2 linked regions of the Homo sapiens genome follow. The protein of the gene in region 2 interacts with the protein of the main gene of each other region in a pairwise test. Each region holds a gene or a part of one and is shown on either strand. Other genes may lie near its edges.

Region 1 (3,750 bases), on a different chromosome or scaffold from region 2:
TGAGTGAGCCCAGGAGGTCAAGACCAACCTGGGAAACATAGCAAAAGGCAGGGTGGTGCATGCCTGTAGTCCCAAGGCCGAGGCGGGAGAATCACTTGAGTCCCAGAGGTAGAGCCCAGCCTGGACAACATAGCGAAACTGTCTCTAATAGAAAAATTAAAAATATTAGTGGGGGCGGGGTGGTGTGAGCCCATAGTCCCGAGGCCGAGGCGGGAGGATTGCTTGAGCCTAGGAGGTCGAGGCCAGCCTGGCCAACATAGCGAAACCCCATTTCTGCTAACAACAAGAACAACAGAAAAATAGCGTGGGCGGGGTGGCTCACTCCTGTAGTTTTGAGGCCAAGGTGGGAGCATTGCTTGAGCCCAGGAGTTTGATACCAGCCTGGCCAACAAAGCGAAAGCCTGCCTCTCCTAAAAAATAAATAAATAAATAAATAAATAAAAATGAGCGGGGTAGAATGGCACACGCCTATAGTTCTGAGGCCGAGGTGGAAGCATCATCTGAGCCTGAGAGGTTGAGGCCAGCCTGGGCAACATATCGAAACCCGGTTTCCACTAAAACGAAACAAAACAAAACAAAAAATAGCTTGGGCAGGGTGGTGCATGGCTGTAGTCCTGAGATGGGAGGATCCCTTGAGTCCAGGAGCTTGATGCCGGCCTGGCCAACATAGGGAAACACGGTTTCTACTAAAAAAAAAAAAAAAAAAAAAAGCGTGGGCAGGGTGGTGCATGCCTGTCGTCTCGAGGCCATGGCGGAAGGATCCCTTGAGCCCAGGACGATGAGACCAGCCTGGCCAACATAGCAAAACCTGGTTTCTACTTAAAAAAAAAAAAAAAAAAAAGCGTGGGCTGGGTGGTGAATGCCTGTAGTCCCGAGGCCGAGGTGGGAGGATCGCTTGAGCCCACGACGTCAAGACCAGCCTGGCCAACACAGCGAAACCTTCTCTATTAAAAAATCAAAAAATAAAAAATATTAGTGGGGGTAGGGTGGTTCGCGCCTGTAGTCCCAAGACGGAGGCTGGAGGATTGGCCAAGGCAGATGTAACCAATACCACAATCACATCCCATAAGTAAATACATTTTCCTCTCTTCAGGGCTACAGGTAAAGGATGGTAATTGTGCGCACCATACTTAAGATTCCCTTTCAAAAATGTAAGCAGAGGTTGCGGGGCCTTGGACTGTTTTTTCAGTGGCAACAGACATAGAAGCCACTGAAGAATGAAAGCCACGACTAAGTATAGCAAACCTCCGCAAATGTGCTAGTTTGGAAAACATCGTGTCTTTCAAGTAGAAAAATCACAGATTGACTATTTTTTTCTTCCCACAGTTCAGACTAGAATCCAGATTTTTAACCCAAGATCCAGGAACGGTCTTCAGAGAGTTCAAAATCTGACGGCGCCTGAGGACCACCCACTTTTTCGCAGTGGCAACAAAGTGTGGCTGGAGGAGGAGACATTATTCTGCTATGTCACTGCCCAAGGATGATGGACCAATCAGGGCAGTTAGTGAACTCCATCTGGCCAATTAGAAGTCAGAACAGTAGGCGGAACAAGCGAAGCGGATGTGGCTTCTATCAGTCCCGGCTCCAGGGACGGAACCTTCTCAAAGTGGGGGTGGAGACTCTAATTTTCCCGCCTAAAGCATCCCCTGGGATTGGCTACTTTAAGTTCAGAGTACGCATGCTCTGACTTTCTCTCTCTTTCGATTCTTCCATACTCAGAGTACGCACGGTCTGATTTTCTCTTTGGATTCTTCCAAAATCAGAGTAAGCATACGCCGATTTTCTTTTTCCATTCTTCCTACCCCTCCCCTCCTCCGCGGTGCATTTGCTATCTAGTTTTAATAAGGAGTGTATATGAGGCAGGCCGCCATCTCGAATCTTTCCTGTCAGTTTCTAACTTTTTCAGGTACGGGATTTTTCCTAGGAACTCTGTAGTAACTTAAGAAATTTGGGCCGGGCGTGGTGGCTTACACTTGTAATCCCTGCACTTTTGGAAGCCACAGCTGGTGGATCGCCTGAACCTAAGAGGCGGAGGTTGCAGTGAGCCATGATCACGCCAGTGCACTCCCGACTGGGCAACAGAGCGAGACCCTGTCTGAAAAAACAAAAACCAAAAAAGCTCACTCAAATCTTTCCTCCTGGGCTCAAGTGAGCCTCTCGCCTAGGCCTTGGGGCTACAGGCGCGCACCACCCCGCTTCTGCTAAATTTTGTTTGTTTTTTTTAGTAGAGATGGTTTTGCTACGTTTGCGAGCCTGGTCTCAAGCTCCTGGGCTAAGGCGATCCGCCCACCTTGGCCTTCCAAAGTGCTGGGATGGTACAGGCCTGCTCCACCAACCCCAGCTAACTTTTTGTGTATTTTGTAGACGGGGGTTTTGCTGTGTTTCCCAGCCGGGTCTCGACCTCCTGGGCTCAAGCGGCCTGCACGCCTCGGCCTCCCAAAGTGCTGGGATTACAGGCGTGAGCCACGGCGCCTGGCTGATTGCTGCATCTTGAAATGCCCCACATTCTCTCTAAGTGATGGCGGGCTCTTGTAGTCTCAGAAATTCTAGCTCTCTTCCTTCTAATAATTTACAAATCACCGAGTAATAGCCTCTGAACACGTTCATATTAGCGATGCTCATTTCTCTTCAACAGAACAGAACCCCCCATCCCTCTGCCTGATCAGATCCATCGCCAAAGAGACCATGTTATCTCTGGGACTAACTTCCCTTCCTTTATTTATTGAGTGGGGGTGTCAGCATGCCCCCACTGAATAAAATTACACAGTCATGTCCCTGCCTCCCCAAAAAGGGTCCGTACATCTTTCAGGGTAAGCCTAGCTCCAGGGAAACTACTAACAACATTAGCCAACCCCCTCCCAAAGACTCAAGGCTGCTTTGCCCATAGGAAACCTGTCATTCCCTATCAATACTTCTCCCAGAGACCCCTGGTTCCCTGTTTTCATCTGATTTCTCCCCATATCCTTACTCAGGGACAGATAAGCCCCGGATGGAGAAATGCAGCAGCTGATTCCAGGTGACTGAGGGTGGCCGGCCTTCACTGACTTCTCCCTCCACAGGATCAAAGCTGCTGTGGCTGGAAAGACTCAGGCTATTTCTCTTGCAGGTCAGACTGCTCCCGGTGCCATGAACGGAGACGACGCCTTTGCAAGGAGACCCACGGTTGGTGCTCAAATACCAGAGAAGATCCAAAAGGTGAGGTGACCTGGAGGGAGCAGAGTAGTGGCCCAGGGGACAGTGTGGGGTGACCCGGTTTCTGAGGAGGGGAGGACAGAGATACTGGAGACAAGGAGCAGGGTCTCGGGGGAGATCTGGACCCTTGGGAGCCTCCCACCCTCGCTCTGTCATCACCTAGCATCCCTGGAGACAAGTCTGTGACCTTGCACTACATCTGGTGACTCTCAGTCCATTCTGGAAGGTGGGAAGAGAGCCAGCCAGCAGCATTAAAGCCCTACTGTGTGGCAGGGGTGAAGCTAGGGAAGGTCCCTCGTGTTCTGTCAGTTAGCCATGGCATCAACCAGGAAGGATTATCATCCCCAGTTCCCAGATCTAGCACACAGGAAGCGGCTCCAGCTGAATGGCAGACATGCCTAGCTGAGTCCCTGCCATAATTCCTTTTTTTTTTTTTTGTAGGCCTTCGATGATATTGCCAAATACTTCTCTAAGGAAGAGTGGGAAAAGATGAAAGCCTCGGAGAAAATCTTCTATGTGTATATGAAGAGAAAGTATGAGGCTATGACTAAACTAGGT
Region 2 (3,750 bases):
GCCCGGCTAAATTTTGTATTTTTAGTAGAGATGGGGTTTCACCATGTTGGCCAGACTGGTCTCAAACTCCTGACCTTGTGATCCGCCCACCTTGTCCTCCCAAAGTGCTGGGATTACAGGCATGAGCCACTGCGCCCGGCTTTTTTTTTTTTTTTTTTTTTTTTTTTGGAGATACGGTCTTGCCGTGTCACCTAGGCTAGAGTGCAGTGGTGCTATCTCGGCTCACTTCAGCGTCAACTTCCCAGCCTCTAGCCATCCTCCCTCCTCAGCCTCCAAAGTAGCTGAGACTGTAGTCCTGTGCCACCATGCCCAGCTGATGTTTGTATTTCGTGTAGAGACAGGGTTTTGCCGTGTTGCCTAGGCTGGTTTGGAACTCCTCAGTTCAAGTGCTCCACCAACCCTCAGCCTCCCAAAATACTGGGATTACAGACGAGTGCTGAAATTATTTTTAGTTTTTTAGGTTAACTCATTTGACATAAGAAGTACGAATAGATAGCCAGAGAGCAAACAAAGATAGCTAGAGCAATCATGTGAAATGGCAACTGTGTGGATGTTGAAATATTGATCATTATTTCTTTGGCTGTTTATGGTAGAGAAAGGCATTTGAAGAAGAAAGAGCCAGTTGGTTAAAGCAGCAGTTTCTAAATATGACTACCTTTGACCACCAGAACTCAGAAAATGTGAAACTTTTCAGTGCCTTCTCAGGAAGTGAGTACTTTATAAACTCTTTAATTTGAACATGCATATAAATAAAATTATTTACATATTACAAAATACTACATATTATTAATACAAAACTTTGGAAATCACCAATTAGAGCTCTCTAATTATAACTAAAAGTCAACTTTTTTTTGTTTGTTTTTGAGACGGAGTCTTGCTCTGTCGCCCAGGTTGGAGTGCAGTGACGTGACCTTGGCTGACTGCAACCTCTGCCTCCCAGCTTCACGCGATTATCTTGTCTCAGCCTCCTGAGTAGCTGGGATTACAGGCATGTGCCACCACGCCTGGCTAATTTTTGTATTTTTAGTAGAGACGGGTTTTTACCATATTGGCCAGGCTGTTCTTGAACTCCTGACCTCAGGTGATCCACCCATCTCAGCCTCCCAAAGTGCTGGGATTAGGCATGAGCCACTGCGCCTGGCCTAAAAATCAACTTTAATATTTTATTTACTGTAGTGAAAGTGAGGATGAGAGGGGGACTGTGCATGCCCAAAGTAACTTTTGTTGTGAGTTTGTAATAATGCGAAGTTTTTGAAAATTTACATTGAGAATTTCTTTTTTCAAGATGTAGTCTTGCTCTGTCACCCAGGCTGGAGTGCATCTCGGCTCTCTGCAGCCTCAGCGTCCTGGGCTCAGGCAATCCTCCTTGCCTCAGCCTCCTGAGTAGCTGAGACTATAGGCACACACCACCATACCCAGATAATTTTAAAAACTTTTTTGTAGAGACAAGCCCTCGCTATACTACCCAGGCTGGTCTCAAACTCCTGGCTTAAGCAGTCATTCCGCCTCACCTTCCCAAAGTGCTAGGATTACAGGTGTGAGCCACCCCACCCAGCCTAGAAATATTTTTAAAACTAGATCCTTTTGGCTGGGCACGGTGGCTCACGCCTGTAATCCCAGCACTTTGGGAGGCCGAGGCAGGTGGATCACGAAGTCAGGAGATCGAGACCATCCTGGCTAACACAGTGAAACCCCGTCTGTACTAAAAATACAAAAAAATTAGCCAGGCATGGTGGCGGGCCCCTGTAGTCCCAGCTACTCGGGAGGCTGAGGAAGGAGAATGGCGTGAACCCAGGAGGTGGAGCTTGCAGTGAGGCAAGATCGCATCACTGCACTCCAGCCTGGGTGACAGAGCAAGACTCCATCTCAAAAAAAAAAAAGATCCTTTTAAACATGGGTGGACTATGCAACAAAGATAAGCAAGATTAATGATAATTAATTTGAATTTGTTCCATCTCTTTCCTCACTCAGAACCGCAGATGAATCATCCTGATGATTTACCTTCACTATATTTAATGCCTCACCATATGTACTGCCTTTTTCTCTTACTTGTTTTACAACAGGTTCTGATTGGGACAATCTTATAGTGCACTCGAGGCAGCCGCAAAAGAAGCCTCACAGTGTGTCTAATGGGTCTCCAGTTTGCATGTCTAAACTTACTAAATCTCTTCCTGCTTCACCTTCCACTTCAGACTTTTGCCAGACACGTTCCTGCATATCTGAACATAGGTATTTGTCTATAGGTGATCTTTTCACGTGTTTCTAAAAATTGCTAAAGTTGCACTGCTAAGGGAAAGGTGGCATGTCTGTAGTATTAGCAACAATAGAGATTTTGGAGAGGAATTTAGTAGATGATTTATTCATTCTACAAATATTGAGTGTCCAGTATATATAGACACTGTGCTAGATGCTGGAAATACACTAGTGAACAGGTAGATCTGTTGTCTTCTTGGAGGTAAATCATATGATGTGTGTCTTTTTATTTCACATTTAAGATACAATTTAGAATGTAGTCTTAATTATAGGAGTTAATATTTTAAGCACTTTAATTGTATTAAATGGAAGGATATTGTTTTGACAGTTTTTGTAGAGTACATATCTTAACACTTTTTTCCGGCATGCCCATTTTATTGTTGTTGAAGGGCAAAGAACTGAGAAAAGCCTGTTCCTGTTGAGTGAAAAAGATTTGTGCCCAAGGATGACAGTGTAAAAAAACATGGCTCTCCACCCTGGGAAACCCATATGTTGCTCTTAATTGCTACATTTTGGTGTTTTCCTGTATCTCAAGTTATTATATCATTTTCTAAGATAAGATCAATACTCTGCTTCAGTGCCAATTCCAAGATTAGTTTTAAACGAAGAAGAGGAAGCAGGTAGAACATTCCTAGTAAGACAGAGAGGAATAGAAAAGATCAGAGGGGTAAGTTGGAAAGTATGGTGGTAATCTCTTTGCTCTTAATTAAAAGTAGGAGATAATGGCCTTGGAAAACAGTCAGAGCTGAAGCAAACTCGGCCTGTGTTAGAGACTGGAGTGGAACTAAGTGTCGAAGAAGCCAGCTGGCCCTTGGGCCAAGAATTATGAAATAGATGGAGTTTAAAACAAGAAAGGAAGCTTTTAAAAGAAGGAGGAGAACACACTATAAGTTGTAGTTGACTTTTAAGAGGTGGGGGGATTAGGACTCCAAGTAAATGTTAGAGGGGATGAAAAAGAGCTAGGTAAGAGCACTCTAGCCAAGTGTAGGAACCCTGAGGGTGGGACACACCTCATACATTTGCAATGGTGACCAAGACCTAGAGGTGTGAGATGAGGATGGAGAGATGTAAAAGTTCAAATATACAGAGAGGATAAGATCGTGAACCCACGTGTACCTATGACTCAGGTTCAGCAATTATTAACTCTGATCAATATTGTTCATATATAATCCCACTCTGCTTGCTCTCTCCACCCCAGCCCCAACACATCTGGGATTTCATTTACAGAATATTTTAGTGTGCATTTGCAGGTCAAATATTGTTCTAAGGGGAATAGAAAAAACACTAGTTTTAAGCAAGAGAGTGAAAAAAAGTCTTAAGTTTTAAAAAGATTACTGTTTTATAATATTGAAAACAGATTGTAGGAGTCTGTAATATAAACCAGGAAATCCAGTTAGGAGGCACTATTGGAGTGGAAACGAAAGACAATGGTAATTGGACTAGGGTCATAATATGAAGGAAGAAATGCTTGGATTTGGGATCTATTTTGAAGTTAGA

Evidence for each region.
Region 1: the proteins of SSX2IP (region 2) and SSX2 interact in binary tests that used the Homo sapiens proteins (3 or more experiments, as listed by UniProt).

The regions. Positions count from the first base shown.
Region 1 is NC_000023.11:52,705,126-52,708,875, reverse strand, and holds the start of SSX2 (protein SSX2), read left to right. Parts: upstream 1-1,697; 5' UTR 1,698-1,764; intron 1,765-3,106; 5' UTR 3,107-3,126; coding exon 3,127-3,195; intron 3,196-3,633; coding exon 3,634-3,748; intron 3,749-3,750.
Region 2 is NC_000001.11:84,648,841-84,652,590, reverse strand, and holds part of SSX2IP (afadin- and alpha-actinin-binding protein), read left to right. Parts: intron 1-593; coding exon 594-708; intron 709-2,063; coding exon 2,064-2,229; intron 2,230-3,750. UniProt on the Homo sapiens protein: Belongs to an adhesion system, which plays a role in the organization of homotypic, interneuronal and heterotypic cell-cell adherens junctions (AJs).